Homo sapiens: one gene and its partners. The protein of the gene in region 2 purifies or fractionates together with the protein of the main gene of each other region. This does not show direct contact. Each region holds a gene or a part of one and is shown on either strand. Other genes may lie near its edges.

Region 1 (3,569 bases), on a different chromosome or scaffold from region 2:
TTAGACTCATCTTTAGAGCTCTCAACAGATTCATGAAAAATCATAGAATAAATGATGGGTGGGACATCAGCAAGATGACTGATTAGAGTCAGCTGGTGCTCACCCGCTCCCCCCCCCCCCCACCCACCTTTCTTAGGAAAGGACTAAGGCAATGAATAAACAGCTAAGATTTGACTTCAGTGTGGGAAAGTGCTGAACTGCAGTGGGGAAGTGGAGAGGCCCCTGTGGTGACTGAAAGTCTAGGAGGGCAGCATGAAGGCCCCCAGCCTCTGTGGCCCCATCTCTTCCACCAGGACTGAGGAGGCCTGGACATATGAAGGCCTTCTCCCTGTGAGGAAAAGGTAAGCGGGAGATTCCCACCTGCCCCCACTGCCACTGCAAACACCTACAGTCCTTATTACAGGAGGATCCCCCAGTCCTTGCAAGTTCTGAGCCCAGTTTGGAGAGCTGCTGGGAATTCGTACAGTTGCACTGCCCCAGATTAGGAGCATTCCCCACTCCCCACCCACTCCATGAGCCAAGTTACTACAGCATGGCGCCATCTTTAGACCACAGCTCCCTCTGGAGTGTGCCTTCCTCTTGGGGCCAGTAGCCACTGCACCTTTCCAGCACTGGGACTCCATTTTCATGCCACCAAAGCTACACAGGTGGCTGAACTCCACAACCCAGGGCTCGGGAATGGCTGTGACTCTGGTCCTGCAATGAAGGGAAACCACCCTCTGCACTTTCAGCCACAGAAACAGTCCCACCCAGGGCAAACCCACTCTTGAGCCAACCAAACTGCTGCATACCCTCCTGCAAGCAGAAGGCCCTGAGCAACTGACAGGCTAGCAGAGTGACTACGCTCCTGCATCCCGGATCTATGAAACAGTCGGGCAGTGCAGCCCCCTACAGACATGCCCCCGGCCTGCCCAAAGGCCCCACACCTCAATCAGGGCCTGAGAAACAACCCTGCAGGCTGCCCCTGGCAGACATACCCCCAGGCCAGCCAAGTAGCCATGTGTCCATATCTCAGGCCTGAAAAACAGCCCATGGGTCACCCCTAGCGGCAACTCCCCTAGGCCAGCCGAGCAGCCTTGTGTTCATATCCCGGGTCTGAGAAGCAACTCCTCAGGCCACTCCTGGCAGACATGCCCCCGGGGCCATCAAGCAGACTTATGCCCACCTCTCATGCCTGAGAAATAGCCCTGTAGGCTGTCCCCAGCAGGCATTCCCCACAGGAGAGCTGAGCAGCAGTGTGCCCATGTCCCAAACCTGAGAAACAGCCCAACAGGCCACCTCTGGCAGGCATACTCCCAGACTGGCCAAGCAACCAAGCAACTGTGCCCTCAGCCAGAGTAAGGGCACCAACCCCAACCCCAGCAAGTGAGACCCCAAGTTGGACAACCCACCATGTGAACGCATGCATCGCTGACCTGACAAATAGCCCGGTGAACACATCCCTGGCAAAGTCATGCCACCACCACCACAAAGCCTCTCAGCTGAGGCCACTGAGACACTCACAAATGTCACTGGCATGGATTACAGTTAAAGAAACTACACAAAAACTACACTACTATGCCCACCTGGAACCAAAGCCAATGCATCCCACTGAACCAACACCCCAAGATCCATTCATACAAATATTTCTTTCCCTGCAAAACCTACCACATAAAATTGGAAGAGGCAATTATTCCACCAGATGCATAGACATCAACATAGGGATACATCGAACATGAAAAAGCAAGGAAACATGACACCTCCAAAGGAATACAATAATTCCTGTGTAATAGACCCCAATGATAGAGAAATATACAAAATGACAGAAAAAGAATTCAAAATAGTAATCTTACAGTGAGATACAAGATAATAGAGCTAGACAATTTGATGAAATCAGGAAAACAATTCATGACTTGAACAAGAAATTCAACAAGAAGATAAATACCATAAAAAAGAACAAAACAGGTATCCTGGAGTGGAAGAATTCAATGAATAAGTAAATAAGTACAAGCTAGAGCTTTACCAAAAGACTAGACCAAGCAGAATTTTATTTATTTATTTTTTTGGAGACAGGTTCTTACTCTGTCACCCAGGCTGGAGTGCAGTGGCATTATCTCAGCTCACTGCAACCTCCACCTCCTGGGCTCAAGTGATTCTCCCTCCTCAGTCCTCCTGAGTAGCTGGGACTACAGGGGCATGCCATCACATCCAGCTAATTTTTGTATTTTTTGGTAGAGATGGGGTTTCACCATGTTAGCCAGGTTGGTATCGAACTCCTAATCTCAAGTGATCTGCCCGCCTTGGCCTCCCAAAGTGCCAGGATTACAGGTGTGAGCCACCATGCGTGGCTGAATTTTTGAACTTGAAGACAGATCTTGTGAAATAACACAGAAAGATGGGGGGAAGAAAAAGTAAAATGGAATGAAGAAAGCCTACAGAATTCATGGGACACTATTAAGTGAACAAATATTCACACTGTAGGTGTTCCAGAAAGAGAAAAGAAGGGCAAATGTACAGAAAACATTGAATGAAATAGTAGCTGAAAACTTCCCAAGTCTTGGGAGCTTCCAGATCCAGGAAGCTAAAAGAATCCCAAATAGATTCCATTCAAACAGGACCCCTCTTAGGCACATTAGAGTCAAATTATCAAAAGTCAAAGACAAAGAATTCTAAAAACAGCAAGAGAAGGACTGGATGTGGTGGCTCATGCCTGTTATCCCAGTACTTTGGGAGGCCGAGGCTGGCAGATCACGATGTCAGGAGTTCAAGACCAGCCTGGCCAACATGGTGAAACTCTGTCTCTACTAAAAATACAAAAAAATTAGCTGGGCATGGTGGCAGGTGCCTGTAATCCCAGCTACTCAGGAGGCAGAGGCAGGAGAATCACTTGAACCTGGGAGGCGGAGGTTGCAGTGAGCTGAGACCACGCTACTGCACTCCAGCCTGGGCAACAGAGCAAGACTCCATCTCAAAAACAAACAAACAACAATGACAAAAAGAAACCAGCAAGAGAAAAGCATCAAATCACCTATGAGGGAGTTCCCATTAGACTAATAGCAGATTTCTCAGCAGAAATCTTACCAACCAAGAGAGAATAGGATTTTATGTTCAAAGTACTAAAAGAAAAAAAAAATCTGCCAACCAAGAATATTACATGCAGCAAAGATATCCTCCAGAAATGAAAGAGAAATAAAATCTTTCACAGACAAGCAAAAACGAAGGTAATCCATCACCACTAGACCAGTCTTACAAGAAGTGCTCAAGGGAGTATTACATCTGGAAGTGAAAAGATCATAACAGCCATTATAAAAACATGTGACACTATAAAACTCACTGGTAGAGCCAATATACAAAGGAAAAAGAGAAAGAAATCAAGCCTTATCACTTCAGAACACTACCCAACCACAAAAATAAACAGTAAGAGGAAGTAAGGAACAAAGGATATAGAAAACAGCCAGAAAACAATAAAATGACAAGATAAGTCCTCACCTATTAATAATAACCTTGAATGTAAGTGAATTAAATATCTCATTAAAAGACATAGACTGGATAACTAGATTAAAAAAAAAAAAACAAGACTAGACTCAACT
Region 2 (2,823 bases):
TGACTTTCCCCTCAAATGTTAATAGGCAGGGTAGAAGGGCAGGAAGTTTTTAAACCACTGACTGGTTCATTATCCTGATAAATGTCCATCTTGAACTTAAATTTATTAGTTTTTTTTAATATATATTGCCTGATTACTATTTATGTTTCAAAAATTCCAACTATACATTGCTAGCAGAAACCCACAGGCCTGTTTTCAGTGAATAGCTAGCTGCATGTTGGAGGCTTTTTAAACCTATAAACGTCTTTTTTTCCAGTAGACTAGCAACTTAATTTGATGGTAGTTCCTGCCTCCTTCTTAAATAGCCCAGTTTTAGAATGTAACATTTCCTATCTGTAGTAATAGGAGGTCCCTTAACTATCATGATTACCATAGATTTGATTTGTTGCATAGGTTAGGTAGTACAGTCTGCAAGTATTAGTCCCTTTCTGTTGCATGTGCTAGCACCTTCAGTTCACAAGGGGGTAAGAGGAATCCAGTTGATTTGAAATACCTTTTGAGTAACAGTCTAAGTTGTTCATTCAGAAAGAGTAGAAAAGTCAACTGCATCAAGGTTTTAAAAGCAGCATTTATTGATTGAAAATAAATGTGTAGATAGGCTCTCAGTATGGAATCCATGTTATTTTTTAATGAAGTACATGAAGACTCCTTAGATCTTCCACCATGTATCTTGTGTGTGCTTATAACAACCACCATATTCAAATGGAGGGGAATTTTCAACATTTTACTGAAAAAAAAATGAGAAATTCTTCCTTCAGCAGCTCTGCATAGTTTGACAAACTTTTGGAAAGAGATAAAAACACACTCCAGTGTTTGTACGTTGAACGTTTATTACAACTAATTGGCGATGTGATAAGACAGTGCTCACGTGGCCTGAATGTTGGTCACAATCACAACAAAGCTTAATCCAGCCCAGCATATATAAGTGAAAATATAAACCATGAAGACATGTTTAGATATGTATAAGTACTTAGAAAAGTGACGCTGAACAATTACATAGCTTTAAAAAATATAGAGCCATCTAATGCCATTTTACCTCATTCAACTCTTTTTTGTAAGAAATGTGTCTTTTTAAATTTTTATAAGACTTCTGTTAACTAGGCAGTGCCATGGAAAGAAAGGAAGCTGCTGTAAAGTGTGCAGCACTTCTAAGTGGAGGGAAGCAAAATAAATTTAGCTTTAACAAGTACCCCAGAGGGAACATTCGTGCTTTAAACAATGACTTTACACATAATACTGTGAAGAGAGCAACACGTTTTTTGTAAGATACTGTTATGAAGAATTCCTGGCAAATTACCATTCTCACTTTATTTTGGGGCATCAAAAACAACTAAGTATTTGATTATGACCACAAAAAATTCATCTCAGGAGTCAAATGTGCCTTGGCCTTAAAAATTATGTGCTTACTATTGTGAAACAATCCTGTTTCTCATCCCAGATTCAGAATGCCTAAGAAATAATTTTTAGTGTAAGAAGTATCACTCCAATTTAGTCATTAAAAATAATCTGTAGTCCTTTAAAAAAAAAAAAAAAAGGTATGTAATTTCCAATACAAGTCTTTGGAGTAAATTTGCTTTTTAAAGTTTCAACAAAGTTTCCATTCATTTGATATGTGACATGTCAATTCCCTTTTTTTTTTTTTTTACATATGCTGAAATGCTGCACTAGTCTTTGGTTTCATAAAACCAGGTTTCACATTATAATTTAAGAGTTTCCTTTGTCAAATACAGTAATTAATAAATGTATACTGCCTGATTTTACATGTATATGATGTGCCATTTTCATATGTGCACATAATCAGATTAAGAGAAACTGACCTTTAAACTTTAAAATATCCAGAAAAGGTATCTCTTTCTGCACCATTCTAATTCATATTTAAGTCCCTTATCACTTAATTAACTAAAGTTCCCTTTTAAAAAAAAATTGTGTAGGCATGAATGAAGCGGCTTAGCAAAACAGTAATACTGACAAGACATCATCTTACACCATGAGCTAACATGGACATGAAGGGAGTGACCATCTACAGTGTGTGAAATGCCACAAGAAGTCATCAACAAGGGAGGAGAGTTATGTCAGTCCAATTTCTTCAAGAACACTACGTGGGGTTTCAGCTTCCTGTGGAGGGAAAATGTGAGACTCTGGTAAGCAGATCCAGGGAGTCTTGAGAATGTGAAACATTGACATGGAAGAACATGCTTGTTTTAGAGAATCAAGAAAGCAATTTCGTGTCACAGTAGCATTCTAGTTGACAGCCATTGGTTATTTAGGGTTTTGTGCCCTCAAAATTGGAGACCACAAAAGGACGTTTTCAGCATTCATTAAGTACCTGCTAATTACCTACCAATGTGCTAGATGCCGTTGCTGTCATGCAAAAAGCAGTCAAGCCCAGTGCAAACCTGCTGGCAATTTATGAAATCACTGCTACTCAATTATATATATGAAAGATAAGTTATCTTAGTGGTAAAATTCAAAACCTCTTCCCTCCGAGTTCCCACAGTTCTTCGCCTACTGTTGTGTTCCATGCTTTTTGTCACATGCATTTATAGAAATGTCTTCCTCTTGGAGTTTTTAGTTAACTGTGTCCACAGCGGCAAGTCTTCAGAAACAGCTATCTTCCCAGACCTCCCCAGTGCAACCAATGGCATCACTAGAGGCCACATATGCAAAGAATGCCATGGGCCAAAGGCATTTTTATTCTATGTAGCAACCAGCACTGGTTTTTAAGTGTCAAAGGAGGTCAAAACAAAGTAAGCATATCCAGGAAAAAATTATTTAATAATTTTCCAAAGTGGCTGATTTTGCAAATCACAAAATAAAGGACCA
Region 3 (3,569 bases), on a different chromosome or scaffold from region 2:
CAGTGATATCTTTGGTTCTAGGTGTCAGTAATTAACACTGTGGATACCTCCCATGAGGACATGATTGTAAGTATTAATATCACCCTCCCTGGAGGGGTGTGGACATGGGCATTTTTGTGGGAGGGAAGCAATTTGGGGTTTTCATTACCCCTTTCTGTTGATCATTCATGGATCCAGGGTGGCTTTGCAGTGGTTGCCTATCAGCCTGTAATCTCGGGGTATGGCAGGCTCCCTAGCAGTGCCCTCTGAGTTGTCAGGACTGTGGCAGTCTAATCACTCTCTGCTGGGAGGAACCTGGGAATAATTTGTAGTTCTAGGCTGTCAGTCTTCCAGCCAATACAATAACCTGCTCTCGGATGAAGGCTGAGTGGGTACGGAGGCTTGACAATAGTCTTCCCACCTGTCTTCCTCCTGCTGTCACTTCTTAGCCCCACTGGAAAGGGGGGTGAAAAGAAGAGAGTGTAGAAAGATGACTCAATACAAAGGCAGAGGGCAGCCACAGTGAAAGCCCCAGGCAGAGCCCAGTCAAACCACCAAGACAATAGGCCAGACAAGGCCCTTTGAACCAGAAGTCCACACTCAGGGCATTTCCTGAGAGGTAAACACAAGGCTCAGTATAAGAGGACAGGGCTGCAGGAGAAGGTCCAGAGGTTAAAGTCTACCGCAGGAAAAACACAGACTCTGCTTCATTCAGGGCCAAGCAGCCTTTGAGCAAGACCCAGGACAGCTGGCTGACAGTGTTTCATGTCAGGGTTCTTGCCCTCACAACCTGTCCACCAACAGTTGCTTTTGGGTTTCTGAGAGGTTGTCTGGTCCCAGAGTTGTATATGTTCTCTGGATTCAGTCATGAGTGGTCTAGCTGTAAGACCACACCTCCTTGGAGATAGCATGGAATCATGGGCAGGAAGACCCAGTCTGAGACTCCCTAGCCAATATCTTAACTTTTCTGAGCCAGCCTCAATTTACTTACGGGAAAAATAATGGATATGCTACCTACTCGTATGAGTTTGGTTTGAGAACTAGATGAGGCCAAGTAGTAATGACAAACATTTGCATGCTCACTGAGTGTCAGGCCCCATGCTAAGTACTTTTCTTTTTTTTTTTTTTTTTTTTTGAGATGGAGTTTCGCTCTTGTAGCCCAGGCTGGCATGCAGTGGCGTGATCTCAGCTCACCGCAACCTACGCCTCCCGGGTTCAAGTAATTCTCCTGCCCCAGACTCCCGAGTAGCTGGGATTACAGGCGTGCGCCACCACTCCCAGCTAATTTTGTATTTTTAGTAGAGGCAAGTTTTCTCCATGTTGGTCAGGCTAGTCTCGAACTCCCGACCTCAGGTGATCCGCCCGCCTCAGCTTCCCAAAGTGCTGGGATTACAGGCGTGAGTTTTCATTCAATATCTTGTTTAACCTTCATAACAACTGTTGAGACAGATGCTATCTTTAGCCTTATTTAAAGATAAGGGAACTAAGGCCCATAGGATGTTGGTAAATAATAAAGATAAGGAAACTGAAGCTCAAGGAGATGAAGTGTTTTCAAAGTTTGCACAGCAGGTAAACTAAGGAGATAGGATTTAGATCTGAAAGGTACTATGTCCTGCCTCCTTCCACTGAGAAGCATGAGAAGTGCTTCAGAAACACTCCTCTACTGCCTGCCCTCCAAGAAACCAAGGCCTGATACAGTGGAGGGAGTTCCCAAAGAAAAATCAGGATGTGTTCCTTGCGTAGGGAGGTGAGAATTCCCATCTGAGCCAGACAGAATGAGTGCCTTTGAATGGGCATAATTGCCCCTGGTGGCCATGGGAGTGCAGCTGATAGTCCTGAAACTCCCAGGGTGGGACAGCTGGGGAAAGGGACATCCATTGGAATAGGCAGGGCCAGCAAGCAGAAGGGACCAGGGTGTTCAGTGGTGCAGGAGGCATGGTGCCTCAGAGACCATCACCCTGCGGACAAGGATCTGCAGGTAGGGGCCAGGCCTAGTTCTGCATGCTCAGTCAGCATCAAGGAATTCGGTTCACAAGTGGTGAGAGCAGCGACACTTAAGGCATTGTGTTCCTTGGGTGGAAAGTCTGGGAAGCTCTGGGCACACTACTAGGGAAAAGGTCGAGCAGAAGCCCCAAAACAAAGGTCCACAAAGGATCCAGGGCCAGGGCTGGAAAGAGCCCAAATATCTGAATGGAACCCTGTGTGCAGGCCAGAGCTGCATCACAGAAGACCTGACTGGGGACTCCAGGCAGTCAGAGGCCCACTCCTTTGGCCTGCTCCCATGCATTAGCATCAGGTGCTAGGGCTGAGCTGAACCCAGGGGTATTCCCCTTTAGCCCACAGAGCCTAAGAACTGAATAGGGCCTGAGAGGATGGAGGAAGAAGAGGGCAGCTAGGCCAACTTTTTTTCTCCCATACCCACCCTGCGGAACAGGAATGGAAGAGCCCTTCCCTGAGGTATGTAAAGGGTCTGTGACACCAGCTGGGCATGGCTTGCTTTGTCCATTTCAGAGAGACACTGCCCATAGGTGAAGTGAGAATGTCCACATGCTAGCTTCCTGCCTGAGGGTGATGATACTTTGAGATCAGATTGATTTCAGGGAGATTCTGGTCCAAACTAGACTCTGTGTAGTGACAGCCCTCACCCCACCCACCCACCCACCCAGCCTGCAGGCTTCCCGAGCTGTCCTCCCTTTGCAGCACGACGCCCAGATGGACTACTATGGCACCCGCCTGGCAACCTGCTCATCAGACAGGTCCGTCAAAATCTTTGATGTGCGCAATGGAGGGCAGATCCTTATCGCCGACCTCAGGGGGTAAGTGCTGGCGAGCCCAGGGAAGGGCTCCAGGAATGGTGTGGGTTCTCAGGCCCTGCTTCAAGCGTGGGAGCAAAGCATGGGAGCCCAGATTCAGAGCAACCCCAAAGCACATTTAGCGGAGAGGACGCTGGGATCCCAGCCAGCCTGGCTGTCCTCAGCGGACGTCCCCAGGGATGATGCTGTTAAGGGCACAGGTGGATACAGGTGTGAATCTCAGCTCTGCCACTTTATGTGTACCCACCAGAAGACCTTGGGCAAGTGACTCAGTTTCTCTCTCAGAGCCTTCATCTGCTCATCCTCAAAATTGGGCCAATGCTACCTCCTATCCAGCTAGTGTATGCAAGGCCCTGACACAGGGCCCAGGACACAGTAAGTCTTTAGTGCAGGCAGCTACTGCTACTTTTAAAAGTGGTAAACAGTACCATTTCGTTCAAGTTTAGCCAGTATGACCTAAAGTGTCACAAAAGCATCACCGTAAGAATAATGTAAGAATGCTATCATTTTATAAATCCCATTGTTCTGCCTATATGCCCGTGGCACGTGTTCAGTGATTATTTACAAATGTTTGACCTGCCCTGCTCCCTACTGAGATTCTTGAGGAAGTCCTGGCTCATTTTTATGGCCACATCTCTACTGCTTTCCCTCAGCTCACTGCCTTTCACGTATTTGTGGGTTTGCCTGGGTGCCGTGGATCTCCAAGGGTTCTGTGAATAGAGTTCAGGGGTTGATGAATTGGGACAGGGGGAAAAAAATGCATTTTCAGTGACTCTG
Region 4 (3,569 bases), on a different chromosome or scaffold from region 2:
TGCAAGACAGGAGGGGGTGGCAGAGAAGAACCTCAGCTCTGAAGAAGCTCACTGCCCAGCCCTGGGAAGGAGAGACATGTTAGAGTATGAATGGCCGAGCCTGGAAGGGGTGCCTGCTGGCCCTAGATTCTAGGGGCACATGAGGCTCGAGTGAGCAACCAGTGTCCCCCAGAAAGCAGGTGGGTGTGCAGGGAGCCTTGGAGGATGGAGGGAAGTCGCCTTCCAGCAGGTGCTGGAAAGACCACTTGGAGTTTAGTGGGCCTCTGCCCGGCCTCTGGAGCCCCACCAGGGCTGGAGGAGGGAGGCCTGGGATTTCGCCCCTTCTGAAGCTGATGGGTGGCTGGACTGGTGACTTCCTTCTCTGGCCTCATTCCCCTCCCAGGGTAAGTAAGTGGGTTGGACCAGAGCAGGGGCTTCCAATGTGATTTTTTAACCATCAAACAAACTCATAGTCTCCTGATAGGACAGATACAGTGGATAATGGGGGCTGGGCTCCTCACAGCCCCTGAAGCACCAGGATACTGGTTTGAAAGCCACCCTTCCCGGCTGTGGGATGGGTAAGGGGAGGGGAATGGCGCTGGCTGAGGCTCAGAGAGAAGGGAGTTGGCCAGAGTTAGCCAGAGTGGACACCTAGCCCCCAGCTCCCTACTCTGCCACCAGTACCTTGGGGTTGAGGGGGCTACCTGTCAGGGACCAACATCTCTGCCTCCAGAGGGCAGGAGGAGGTCCCAGGTAGAGACTACCTGATGATTTGGAAGAGAGGACTCCCACCTGGACAGGAATCCGGGGGCTGAGCTGGGCTTCGTGATGGGGGTGGCACTGTGGCCCGTGTCAGCCTGTCTCTGTCTGTCCCTGGTGCACCCAGGGAGTAAGTAGATGGGAGGGGTGGCCAGGCACAGGGTTTCCTGAGCCCAGGCAGGGGAGGAAATGGTAGTAGGGGGTCTGACTCATCCCCATGTCCCCAGCACCCAGTGCAGGGCAGGGGTGGGGGGTGGGCAGGAAGTGCTCTCCGGGTCAATGGTGACAACAATGGGTATGTGAACAGAGGCGGCGGGGGTGGGGGACGCACCCCAGAAAGCACCTCTCTGGAGGGCCTGGGGTCAGTGCAGGGGTGAGAAACAGGCAGTTACCAACCCTTTGGCCTCAGGGACTCTCCTGAGACTGGAAGGCTGGACAGAGTGCTCCTTGGGGTCTTAAGTAGAGCCAAGGAGGGCATTTGAGGGCAGAATGGCCTTTTCCCTGGGGGCCTGACTCCCCAATTACCAACTCCCAAGGGGTTACAGACTGGAGGGCCCTGGCAGCAGAGGCTGCTGGGTAACAGCCCAGCAGAGCTGCTCATTGGCTGCCACCCTTGGACTTTGCCCTCCCTGATAAGGAACTGGGAGCAGAAATTATTAACTGAATCATTAACTGGGTGGCCCCGCCCTACCCAGGCAGCCTGCCTTACCTTCCCACCTTCCTCTTCACGGACCTAGCACCTTCCTGGGCCTCAGTTTCTCTCATTGCCTTGGGTGCTGGAGTATGTGGGGCCTCCTCTCCTATCTCCAGGCCTTCAGCCCCGGCTGCCACGGGGTGTGGGTACCTCTTGGTTGGGTCTCGGGGTAGGATGATGTAATGGTTCTGTGCATTCGCCAGCGAGGGCAGCTGGGGTCTGTTCCTAGCTCTCCTGCTTACCCACAGTGCTTCTCTTGGCCGTATCAGGGCACCGCTGTGCCTCCGCTTTCTCATCTGTAAAACGGGAGTGCAGTTGTAATGGCAGGGCCTCCGTCCCAGGGTTTCTGGGGTGATTAGGTAAGATTGTGCCTGGCCTGGTGAACACTCCATTGGTCCATGGCAGGTGTTCTGCGCCCTACCTTGAAGATTACTGGTCCCCAGGGTAGGTCAGTGCCCCTAAGCTTAGGGGGCTTGTTGAGCATGTTCTGTGGTTCTGTGTGCAAGGCCTGAACCATGACAGCTCTGGCCCAGCGTGGCCTGGTCCTGGTCCCTGGCACATCCAGTGGGGCCCGCCCCACCTCCCCCTCTGAGATTTGGGTTCTGTTCTTGCTGCCAGCAAGGAGGAGGGGCTTGGCTGTATTGTGACTTCATCTGCTGCACCCAGGCTCTTTGCACGTTGTCTTCCTGGAGTCCTGGGGTGCAGTGGAAGCGTGGGTGACGGCCTCCCATTTCTGAGGGGGACTGTGAGGCAGGACAGGAAGGCGATGATGTGTCAGGCTCCCTCAAGGTGGCCACAACAGAGCTGGGACTGGAGCCTGGGTCCCAGCTCTGTGCCAGCCTGGGATGGGCAGGGAAGGGGCCTCTCCTCCTGACATGCTGAGGGGTGGCTCCAGCACGGGTGGCCACGCCAGGTGATGTCCGTGCAGCCTCCTTGACCTCTCTAGACCTCAGAGCCCTCACTCACATGGTCAAGGTTGGGTGATGTTAGCAGTTAGATCCCACGAGTGCCAAGGCCTGGAGTGAGGGGGGGAGGGGCAAAGCCCCTGGGTGGGGAGTACAGTTGGGTCCGGAGCCCCCTGCCGGCCTAGAGTATGGAGGGGGCTCCCGGACATTCTGTCCTCCCTGTGCCCCAGGTCGCATCAGTGAGGGAAGTTCTCCCTCCAGCTGACCGGGGTCCGTGCAGCCACCGGAGTGCACAACCACAGCCTCTGTCTCTCCTTTGTGGAGTTTGAGGATCCTATCTCCCTCCGGCCTCCCTCACTCCCCTCTCTTCTCCCTCTATGGCTGGGGCAAGGGGATCCCCATCCCCTGCCCTGCTAGCTTGGAGGAGGGAAGTTGTGCCTGTGACACTGAGTTCACTCAGTGGGGCCTGGCTCCAGCCGGAGCTGCTTAGGGAGGGTCTGACAGCAGGCGGGGAGGGGGCTTGGAGGGAAGAAGAGGAGGTGGGAGCTCTTCCTGGGTGGCCACTAACCTAACCCATGCATGTGACGCTGTGCCTGTGGGCCTGGGCCTGTCGTCGGGTCAGTGAGTGTTTGTGTACATGCGTGTCCTGGCATATACACCTGTGAAGTGTGCTGAGGTGTGAACATGCACAGGCATGCTCGTACCTCAGGGCTTTTGCACCGGCTGTCCCCGCCATCTGGAACCTTCTAGAATGCTAGGCATTTTGCTGCTCTCGTCATCTGACTCTGCTCCCTAGAATGTCAGCTCCATGTGGGCAAGGCTTTTGTCCCTTTTGCTCACTGCTGTAGCCCCAAAGCTGGGCACTATGCTTGCCTGGCACATAACAGGTGCTCAGTAAATAACTGCTGAATGAATGAAGGCACACGGATGAACGCTGGTGTGCGCATGTGTGTGGGTATATGTGTGGGGCATGCCACTGTGTGTCAGTACTGTGTATGTGTGAGTAGGGGGCAGGTGGTACGTGATCATGCGCATGTCAGTGGATACCTGACTGCAGGGTGTGCCCTTACATATATGTGTGTGTGTTGGCAGTGTGCCTGCGTGGGGCCACGCCGGTGTGTAGGCACAGATGGGCACAGGTGACCCTGGTGGAGACCTGTGTCCACCCCAAGCTGCAGGGTCTCTACCTGGCACCTGGTGGCCTGCCTGCCCTGGTCCCTGTGGGAGAGAGT
Region 5 (3,500 bases), on a different chromosome or scaffold from region 2:
CTGGTTAAGAAGGTTTAGCAGGAGCCTCCAATGAGCACTGTATGTAGAGAAAAGGGAAGGAGCAGGAGGAGGAACAGATCTGCACAGAATTTTTTTCTTAAAAACCACAAAGGGTGACTTTTTTCTTCTAAGCAAGCAAGCCTGAGAGGCATTACATGGGCTGGCTCCTAATATCAAAACAAAATATTTCTTTGCCACAAAGGAACTTGACTATGTAGCAACACATTTACAAAACTACTGCAAAACACTCCCAGAGGGCAGTGACCTACTCTGCTCCCCAGAGGCTCCAAGAAGCAAGGCCTCAAGTGCCTCATGTTCCATGGGGCTGTGCAGTGCAATGCAGAAGGCGGAAATCCTGCTGTGACGCCACCCTCGAGACCTTCTGCAGCCTGAGAGGGGGTGATACTCCCACACCCTTTGATCCTTCCAGATGGCTCAGCCTAGATCTAGCAGTGAGAGAGCCCTCTCCATGCAGGGCAGATGGAGTGGTGGACACTTGTGAAAACAAAACACTAACTGTTCCATCCTGTTATATTTGCTGTGAGGAAAATTAAGATTCCTGTTGTATGGGCTGCACTGTTTCTGGAAGACTACAGAAAATCTAACATGGTTGACACTTCCTGGTAGCCCTTCTGTACATACACACACACACACCCAGAGAGAAGACAGAGAGAAAATCCTGGTCCAAAAGATCACATGACCTTACTAGTGTTTCCCCAATGACTGTAATTTATAAACTAAAAATTTTTACAAATCCACTGCTATCTTCTTCTGTCCTGAGTTTGGTAGACTTTAATGGATGCTCCAGCAATAACCAGAATCTAGGACATGCAGACTCACTGTGAGCGAGAGGCTAGGGATCTGCCCTAAACATAGGAACCTGTTTCTATCAAGCCTGAATGAGGTCAGCTCTGGTAGAATTAATGACAAATCAATGTCAGTGAAATATTCTGCAAACAGGGTAGCTTTTGTGCTTTCTTTTGATTATTTTCTTTGGGGAGATAAAGGTATTGCAACCATGGGTCTAACTAATCTATCACTAAAGGACTGTGACGACATTCTCAATAAAGACAGTCATGGTGTTTACTGTGCCAAGGAGGGAAAATCCCAGATCATCAGAATCCCAGTGCAACAGAAAACAGCACCAGTTTCAACAATTCTGATGTTGGACAAAGCCTCTTTTTGTCAGTTAAGAAAGCGTAAGCACAATCTCTCAGTCAATTGCATTAACAGGAATCCATTCATGTCACTGAAAAATACTTCTTGGCACAGTTCACTTTCCTGACCCAAAGACACCAACAACAATCAAAACTGCACTTTCAGGGTAGTATATTGTTACACTAGCCCAGTCAAAACATACTCAGAACATTTAAAAATGTATAAATTACTGTTAGCACTGCAGTTCCGTTTTATTTTCTTATTTATTTATTAAGACAGAGTCTTACTCTGTTGCCCAGGCTGGAGTGCAGTGGCATGATCTTGGCTTACTGCAACCTCTGCCTCCCAGGTTTAAGCAATTCTCATGCTTCAGCCTACCAAGTAGCTGGGATTACAGGAGTGCACCATCATGCCCAGCTAATTTTTGTATTTTAGTAGAGATGGGGTTTTGCCATGTTGGTCAGGCTGGTCTCAAACTCCTGGCCTCAAGTGACCCACCTGCCTTGGCCTCCCAAAGTGCTGGGATTACAGGTGTGAGCCACTACACCCAGCCCTGCAGTCCCTTTTTAAAGAGTACTGACTGTTTTCCTGCAAAGTACTTTCAAATCCATACCATAAAGGTAGAATTTATCTGGAAGAATGTGTTTTTTGAATTCCACCTGGCACTTGGTTAAATCTACTTTATTTTGCCCTTTATTTATTTGAACAGAACTTTAGAATGCTCTAGGTCAGGAAAAGAAACAGTGTGTTCGTTTTTAAGAAGGATGTGTGAATAGTAAGTTGGCATTCAGACTCAAGTCCCATGGTATTGTTCTTATCCAATGGGACCTCTCCTTGGGAATATAATTCCTTTCCCAGAGGTATCATGGTATCCCAAGAATATAACTGCTCTTTGGCTCTGTGTGTGAAGATTGGGGGAGAGGATGTAAACTAAGAGTATATAGCAAAAAAAAAAAAAAAAATTTTTTTTTTTTTTTTTTGAGATGGAGTTTCACTCTTATCACCCAGGCTGGACGACAGTGGTGCAATCTCGGCTCACTGCAACCTCTGCCTCCCAGGTTCAAGCGATTATCTCGCCTCAGCCTCCCAAGTAGCTGGGATTACAGGCGCCCACCTAATTTCTGCATTTTTAGTAGAGACGGGGTTTCACCATGTTGGTCAGGCTGGTCTCAAACTCCTGACCTCAGGTGATCCACCTGCCTCAGCCTCCCAAAGTGCTGGGATTACAGGTGTGAGCCACCGTGCCCAGTGAGTAGACAGCAAAATTTAAAGTTCACCAACTGATGTTCCCAAAAGTGCTGAACACTAAATGACACAGGGCTATGAGGTACATACATTTCTTTTAGTAGGAGGGAAAAGTAAAAGCTTTTCAAAGTTTGAGTGCTTTATTAGAATTTTTAAATGAGGCGAACTATGATTTTAATTTCACATCTTGGCTAAGGAGATGCCACTGGAGTACAGAGATAATCTCCTGTCTTAAGCCACGGATCAGTCAGTGTAGCCCTCCCTACCCCTCAATCTCAAGACCCTCTTACTTCCGAACTAAACAACACAATTGGCAAATGAAGCCAGCACGAAACTGTATCAAAAAACAAGAGAGTCTGCAGTGAGCCAGTGTATTATGTAACCACTGTAATAAGTGATTACGTGGCCTCCCATATGGACCTTTCATATCCTGGTGGGAGATGGGAGACCAATTTAATAGCTCTGAGCATGCTCCATGGTGCAATCACAAGTGCCATGCCAATACAAAGACAAGCAAGCAGGTGAATTTCCCTAGTGTACTTTTCAGGAACACGGTTACTCAGTTCAGGGACAGGACTACATTGATGCACCTGCAAAGTAAAGTTGGATGCTTCAGAGCACATGGATGATACCCAGGTCAGCACGGTGTAAGGCATATATGGACACAAAGAGAGGCCATTGTTGGCAATAAATAGCATTACGGAAAAGATTCCAAACCAGCAGAACAGAAATGGACCTGATGCTCCAGTTTTTTAGATAAGTAATCCCAAGAATCCAGTTCCAACTCTACTGTCAACATGTGGGGCAGAATTCAATTTCTATCATTGTTTTTACAGATCTGGGCTGAGGCCATTTGCTCCTTGCTTGGTTAAAAAAAAATAAAAAAATAAAAAAAGGTTTCTTCCTGTTTCTTTCTGGGCAGGGAAATACAGCTTAAAGAAGGAAAGGCCATGAGTCCTGGGAGCACTATGAAGGTAGCTAAACTCTTCCCATATCTACAGTCAATGACTGGGAAATAGAGAAAGGACAGGGCAACCTGCCCAGCCACTAGCATCGAAAACAAAAAGGTATGTTAATTGTGAGGCTCTCAATTCTAG
Region 6 (2,479 bases), on a different chromosome or scaffold from region 2:
GCTACTAATTCAATATTTGTTTTTCATGGTACGGTTTTCATGTTTCCTTGGAAACATATTTTGCAAATATAACAATAATAGTAATAACACAATTTTGTCATTTAAAAAATTACCCATTCATTTTTCAAACTTGACTGTTAGTGGAGGGGTATATGTGTGTCTGTGTTTCCACTTATGTAATGGCTGTCTCATTATTTAAATTAATTTATAATTATTTTTCAGTGTACAGAGTGATTAGCGGCTTGTAATGCTGTTACAATGTAGCATTGTAATGTAAGATGAAGAAAAATTAGGATTTAGGTGGGATTTTTAAAAATTTATCAATTCAGCTACTTTTTAAAAGAAGTCCTATTCCAATTGGACCTTTAAAATTTTTATTTTGGTAATATTTCAACTTAAGATGTATTAAAACTAGCAATTCTGTGGTAATCAGTGTACTAGTCAACATTAAAATGCTATTTTGGGTTGTCTTCTTTTGGTAACATATTCTGACACTAAGCAACATGTTTTACAATTTAGTGGGATGAACCTACAAATTCATAAATGCTTCTCTTTATTTTGAAGGAAAAAGATACTTGTCTGTATACGACATAATTGTTTTACTCTTCAGAATGTGAAAGTTATATTAATCACTAAACACTTTAAGAAGTGGTTCTGGTAGGATATCAGTAGTCAGACTTAATTGAAAAACTGTCAGCGTCTGTTTTGTATATAGGGATTAAAGAGGATAACTTTATTTTTTCCTTTGGAAAGAATAATTCTTTTGGAATTTTGGAATTTTGATTTTCTTAGATGACTTTTTAGCAATTTAATGATAATAATTTCTATTTTTCTTCCAAAACTATGGCATGTTATAGTAGATCTTACTATTAAAGATCTTTTATATTTTAAACTGTTTTTTTCCTATTCTGCTTTTTGCTGCTCTCAAAGACTGTGATTGATGAACATCACCAAACTTTTTTTGTGGCAAACTGCTTATTTTATAAGTAGCTTTATATAAGAAAACTTCTTAGAAAACTATGTGGCTGGTTGGTTCCATTTAGAAACTCTTAACAGGTATGGCTTTCATTCCTCCAGTTGTTTGCTTTTATAGACTTGGAGCAAAAAATATAGCAAAAAGTAATCATATCTGGCTAGATAGCCATTTCTCTCAGATTCATTGCTATAAAAATGAATCTACTGAGGCATAAAAATATGAAACATATTTAATTCATCTCTTTTGTCAGTTTTTCTGGGACTCCAATAGCATTTCAGTGTTATAGAGAGTGACAGTGACTTGAATGCATGTATATGCACATAGTCAATTCAGAGCGTAATAACTAAAAATTCAGAATGACTTGTTTTTTGAAAGTACTTGGAAATTGTGCTGCTACTTAAATATTGAAGGAATTCAGAAAGTTGTGTATTTATCTTAAAATGTTCCTTCTCACTTATTCTACTGGAATTGACCATGAAAAAGAAAATATTATGCCTTATTTATATCTAATTATTGACTGTGCAAACTGTGACTCAGTGGATATTTGTATGCCCCCCAAAAACATTTTAAAGCTGAGCAATTTTTAATAAAGATGTATAAATAATTTTGATTATTCTCATTGTAGTTAAGTTACTGTTAGTTTGGTGCAATACATTCTTTCCTTCCTCATCCTTTTAAAATTAAATATATAAGATGTATGTTTTGTTTTATTACATTAAGTGCTATTTTTAAAAAATTCATTGTGTGTATATGAGCTAATACTTGATTTGTTTCTGTATAGCATGATTAAAGATAATTGAAAATTTTGCACTTATTTTAGGCCCTTGGAAATTTGTATTCTAATACTTTTTAAGAATGTCCATTTATTTTGTACATAATAAATTAGCTTTGTATATGAAAATGGGTTTGAATCAAATAAAAAAAGTGATGTTACTTTCTTCAGTTGATTTGTAATTCTCAGTTCATAGAGTCTGATTAGAACTTATCCTTGGCTAAGTTATTTGGGTAGACAAGAGATTGAATACAGTATTTGTTAATTAGAAAATTGATCAATGTTTCTTTCTCATATGAGCAGAATTTCTTCTGTAGTCCTGTGTGCACAAGATACATGTCAATTGACTATTTTTTGTCATATGTAACAACAGATATTCTGCCTTTCACTTTAGAGCTACCTCAAAAACATTGTTACAGGCTAGGCACAGTGGCTCATGCCTGTAATCATAGCACTTTGGGAGACCAAGGCTGGAGAATAGCTTGAGCCCAGGAGTTCAAGACCAGTCTGGGCAATATAAAGAGACCCTGTCTCTAAAAAAATTTAAAAATTAGCCAGGCATTGTGGCATGCACCTGTAGTTCTAGCTTGAGCCCAGCAGGTGGAGGCTACACTGAGCCAAGATCACACCACTGCACTCCAACCTGGGTAACAGAGAAATACCCTGTCTCAAAACAAACATTGTTTTAGTTTTTCCCTTAGCAAATGATTATATGCCATAAATCTCTGTTT
Region 7 (3,569 bases), on a different chromosome or scaffold from region 2:
GAAGAGAGGGAGTACACAGGTCAAGGCAGTGGGCAGCATTGTTGGGCAGGGGAAGGAGCCAGGGTTGGGGAGGTGGCAGGAATGGAGAGCGCGAGTGGGTGAACTACTACAGAGCCCCAGGTGGTGGCAGAGATGGGCTGGAAGGCCAGCGCCTCGGCAGGCTCGGGCAGGGGAACAGCTCCATCCAACATGCCTATTACAAGCTCACTCTTGGGAGGCCATGGGAAGGTAGGCAGGGAGAGACAAGAGGGACAGCAAGGGCTCTAGAAGTCTACGAGGAGAGGGCGGCGAGCCAGGCCTCAGCCATTCACTAAGCTGGGTACAGTGGGTCTGGGGATGGCTTAGCGAGGGTGAGCTGAGATGGGGGAGCTGACTGGCTGCAGCCTGGACAACACCAGACAACGCATTTGGTGCGTGTCCCACCGCAGGGCTTGGTGGCATGTGCACTCACAAAGTGCTGGCTTCCACCTCGTAGGTCTCCTTAATGTCCACTTTTGTAGAAGAGTCATCTGTAAGGAAGATGCAGAAAACTAAGATGACTTTCAGGGACATAGTGGGGAGGCATTTTGAGTCCAGCCCACTGCTGTATTTACAGGAGACAGCGGCAGCCCTGGTCTTCAGGGACCCTGCTGTCCTTCATCAAGCTGCCCGCACTCTGGAATGTGCTGTGTGCCTCAGGGCAGGGCTTCCCAGACTTGAGCCCACATACACCCCTCCTGGGGATCCTGGCAAATGCAAATCCTGCTGCACGCTGGGCTGAAGTACACATTCACCCATGGCCAGAGCCAGCAAAAGCTGTCTTTGAGGTATCACTCATGTGCCAGGCAGGGTTACTGGGGCTTTGTCTCCTTTAACCCAGGCATATATCACCCCTGTCTTCACTTGTAGATTAGGAAGTAAGTCAGAGAGTTACACAACTTGGCCCAGGTCACACAGCAGAAACCACAGTCAGAGCCGGGCAGTCTGACTCCCCATCTGAACCCAGTGAAGCCACAGGATTCCCAAGACCCTCAGACCAGCAAAGGGTCTGGCACTGAGCAGCTACATTCAACAAATGACATTAGGTCCGTGTGACACAGACTGTAATTTGCTATTTCAAACCTGAGGAAGGCACATTTCACACCAGCACAGACAGTGAGTGAAAGCTTTGTGAGCGAGGCAGGTGAGTGTTGCAGAGAGGGTAAGATTTTAAATGAAGCAGAGGGAGAGGCTGAGAGATAAAAGGGACATTTCTGGCACTAGGAACAAGGTAAGTATGGAGGGCAGAATAATGACCCCCCAAAGACGTCCACATCCTAATCCCTGGAATTGGTGAATATGTTACCAATTTCAAAGGGGAGTAAAGGATGCTTATCAGCTGACCTTGAAATAGGGAGATGACCCTGGAGAATTTGGGTGGGCTCAATGTGATTGCAAGAGTCCTGAAATGCAGAGGAAGCTGACAGTCAAAGGAAGATGTGACTGTGGAAGAGGTCACGTGGCTGGCTGTGAAGACAGAGGAAGGGCCATGAGCCAAGGCATGCAGCCGCCTTTAGGAGCTGGAAAGACAAGGAAATGGCTTCTTCTCTGGAGCCTCCAGAAGGAACCAGCCCTGTGGACACCTCAACTTTAGCCCAGTGGGACCCACAATGGACTCTTAACGTATAGAATTATAAGAGAATATATTTCTGCTGTTTATGCTGCTATGTTTTGGCATAGCTGTAGTAGAGAGAACACAGCAAGCAAAACTCCAAGGCAGAAATAAGCAGAGAATGCATGCATGTGCGTAACGTGTGCACATCTGTGTGTGGATCCCACGGGGAGGTCTTGGGAAAGGCTGGCAGGGGAAGAAGCCCACTTCAGCAACCCCCAGTAGTGGTGTTACATGATGTGTTTACTTTATGAAAATTCATTCAACTGTACATGTATGACTTGTGTACTTCTCAGTAAAAAAAAAATTATTAAAGAAAAAAAGGCCCTTTGGGAATTTTAAAGCACAAGGGCCAAACCAGTCGCACTAAAACTGAATGTTTAATTACAGCTCGATAAATCATCTGCTACTCATATGGTACATTCCTCTGGATAAGCTGTTGACTTCTAAGCCTCCACTTCCCCATCTCTAAAATGGGGATGAAGATTGCACCTATCTCGCTGGGCCACCGAGGACTAAATGAGATAGAGAGGATGCCTGAGAGCTCAGCAGCTGTCTCTCTGCAGCTGCTGGGCCAACACAAGGCGTGTAGTGCCCACAAAGGGCTCTGGCACCAGCAGCAAGAAAGGGAAGAAGGAGGCACTGAGGAGCAGCCCTCACACCAGCACAGGCTTCTCCACCATTTACTCTCTTCACTGAGATGTGCGAGTTACTGGGGAAAGGGCAGAGGGCTGGGACTTATCTCCGTAAAAAGAAGAAATTGTACTCAACAAGCCGCACTGTTTCCAACAGCCTTTTTTTTTTTCTTGGTATTTTTTAGTAGAGACAGGGTTTCTCCATGTTGGTCAGGCTGGTCTTGAACTCCCGACCTCAGGTGATCCGCCCGCCTCAGCCTCCCAAAGTGCTGGGATTACAGGCATGAGCCACCACACCCAGCCTCCAACAGCTTTTTATGCACCTCAATTTATATAACCCATTAATCCTCAATAAGTAATACATCTGAAAAACAGATGATGTTTTTGAAGACTTAACTCAAGTGAGCTTGCTGATGAAGTGTTTTCAATGGACTAACAGACTCCTGAAAATGCTGTGTGGGCCATGCAGGAAGAGACAGCTCTGGGGTACCTTCCATTCTTCCCCATCTGCCACTGCTCCACCACTGCCAGCTGGCCTCCCAGGGCAGCCTGAGCAGCTTCCCATGGGTCTGGCCATGGTCCTGGAAGGAGTTTCACATTAAGAGCAGCCATAGTCTGGGCATACTGAAAAGGAGGCTCCCCAGACCCACTCTCAGCCTCCCCAATTCCATCACAGGCCCCAGTGCTAGGAGCCTTCTCCAAGCTCTTTGTTCCGAGTTAAGTGAAGTGACTTTAGCCACAAGTGGTTCCAAAAAAGTGTTCACAGACCCCAAATTTATTCCAGGAAGCCATAGCGCTGACCTGGTGCAACTCTCTCAAGGACAGGTGACACTTCTGCCTTCATGAAACCCTATGGGCTAATGTGAACAGCAAAGTCTGGAAACAAAAGGCCACCATGTCACGGCAGTAACTGCGCTATTCCAGGAGTAACTCATGGGGAGCTGGGGGCCACTGCAGTAGCCCCTCCTGTCCCTGCTCCCACCCGCTGCCCACTCTCACTCAACATACCGCTGTGCAGGGACAGGTGGTGGGTCGGGGTAGAGGCCCCATCAAATATCGCTCTGTCCAGAAAGTCGATGGTGGACTCCGTGTAAACAACCTGGAAGACCTGGCCTAGCAGACAGCAAAGCTCCTCCGCAGCGACCTGCAGTGGGGGACAGCAGCTGCTCGGTCAGTCTGGCTGGAGACTGCGCCTTCCCAGGCGGCTTCCAGGATACCTGGGGCAGCCCAGATGCTCAATAAACATGAATGAAGAGTGGATACCAGAATGTGTCCCTCTGCCTTTCACTGACCCAAAGGGGTGT

The links.
Region 1: the proteins of AP1S2 (region 2) and STX8 purify together in Homo sapiens (affinity purification with mass spectrometry; 2 studies listed by BioGRID and IntAct, with this or other methods). This does not show direct contact.
Region 3: the proteins of AP1S2 (region 2) and SEC13 purify together in Homo sapiens (affinity purification with mass spectrometry; one large-scale study listed by BioGRID and IntAct). This does not show direct contact.
Region 4: the proteins of AP1S2 (region 2) and MYRF fractionate together in Homo sapiens (co-fractionation; one large-scale study listed by BioGRID). This does not show direct contact.
Region 5: the proteins of AP1S2 (region 2) and NUDT3 purify together in Homo sapiens (affinity purification with mass spectrometry; one large-scale study listed by BioGRID and IntAct). This does not show direct contact.
Region 6: the proteins of AP1S2 (region 2) and NBEAL1 purify together in Homo sapiens (affinity purification with mass spectrometry; one large-scale study listed by BioGRID and IntAct). This does not show direct contact.
Region 7: the proteins of AP1S2 (region 2) and CCM2 purify together in Homo sapiens (affinity purification with mass spectrometry; 2 studies listed by BioGRID and IntAct, with this or other methods). This does not show direct contact.

The regions. Positions count from the first base shown.
Region 1 is NC_000017.11:9,506,300-9,509,868, forward strand, and holds part of STX8 (syntaxin-8), read right to left. Parts: intron 1-3,569. UniProt on the Homo sapiens protein: Vesicle trafficking protein that functions in the early secretory pathway, possibly by mediating retrograde transport from cis-Golgi membranes to the ER.
Region 2 is NC_000023.11:15,825,258-15,828,080, forward strand, and holds the end of AP1S2 (AP-1 complex subunit sigma-2), read right to left. Parts: intron 2,116-2,823; coding exon 2,068-2,115; 3' UTR 549-2,067; downstream 1-548. UniProt on the Homo sapiens protein: Subunit of clathrin-associated adaptor protein complex 1 that plays a role in protein sorting in the late-Golgi/trans-Golgi network (TGN) and/or endosomes.
Region 3 is NC_000003.12:10,314,547-10,318,115, reverse strand, and holds part of SEC13 (protein SEC13 homolog), read left to right. Parts: intron 1-21; coding exon 22-66; intron 67-2,679; coding exon 2,680-2,795; intron 2,796-3,569. UniProt on the Homo sapiens protein: Functions as a component of the nuclear pore complex (NPC) and the COPII coat. At the endoplasmic reticulum, SEC13 is involved in the biogenesis of COPII-coated vesicles.
Region 4 is NC_000011.10:61,755,636-61,759,204, forward strand, and holds part of MYRF (myelin regulatory factor isoform 2 precursor), read left to right. Parts: exon of another isoform or gene 1-61; intron 62-1,447; exon of another isoform or gene 1,448-1,728; intron 1,729-1,853; exon of another isoform or gene 1,854-2,029; intron 2,030-3,569.
Region 5 is NC_000006.12:34,284,670-34,288,169, forward strand, and holds part of NUDT3 (diphosphoinositol polyphosphate phosphohydrolase 1), read right to left. Parts: 3' UTR 1-3,500. UniProt on the Homo sapiens protein: Cleaves a beta-phosphate from the diphosphate groups in PP-InsP5 (diphosphoinositol pentakisphosphate) and [PP]2-InsP4 (bisdiphosphoinositol tetrakisphosphate), suggesting that it may play a role in signal transduction.
Region 6 is NC_000002.12:203,223,277-203,225,755, forward strand, and holds the end of NBEAL1 (neurobeachin-like protein 1), read left to right. Parts: 3' UTR 1-1,918; downstream 1,919-2,479.
Region 7 is NC_000007.14:45,069,666-45,073,234, reverse strand, and holds part of CCM2 (cerebral cavernous malformations 2 protein), read right to left. Parts: intron 3,410-3,569; coding exon 3,274-3,409; intron 2,847-3,273; coding exon of another isoform or gene 2,698-2,846; exon of another isoform or gene 1,486-2,697; coding exon of another isoform or gene 1,363-1,485; intron 510-1,362; coding exon 452-509; intron 1-451. UniProt on the Homo sapiens protein: Component of the CCM signaling pathway which is a crucial regulator of heart and vessel formation and integrity. May act through the stabilization of endothelial cell junctions. May function as a scaffold protein for MAP2K3-MAP3K3 signaling.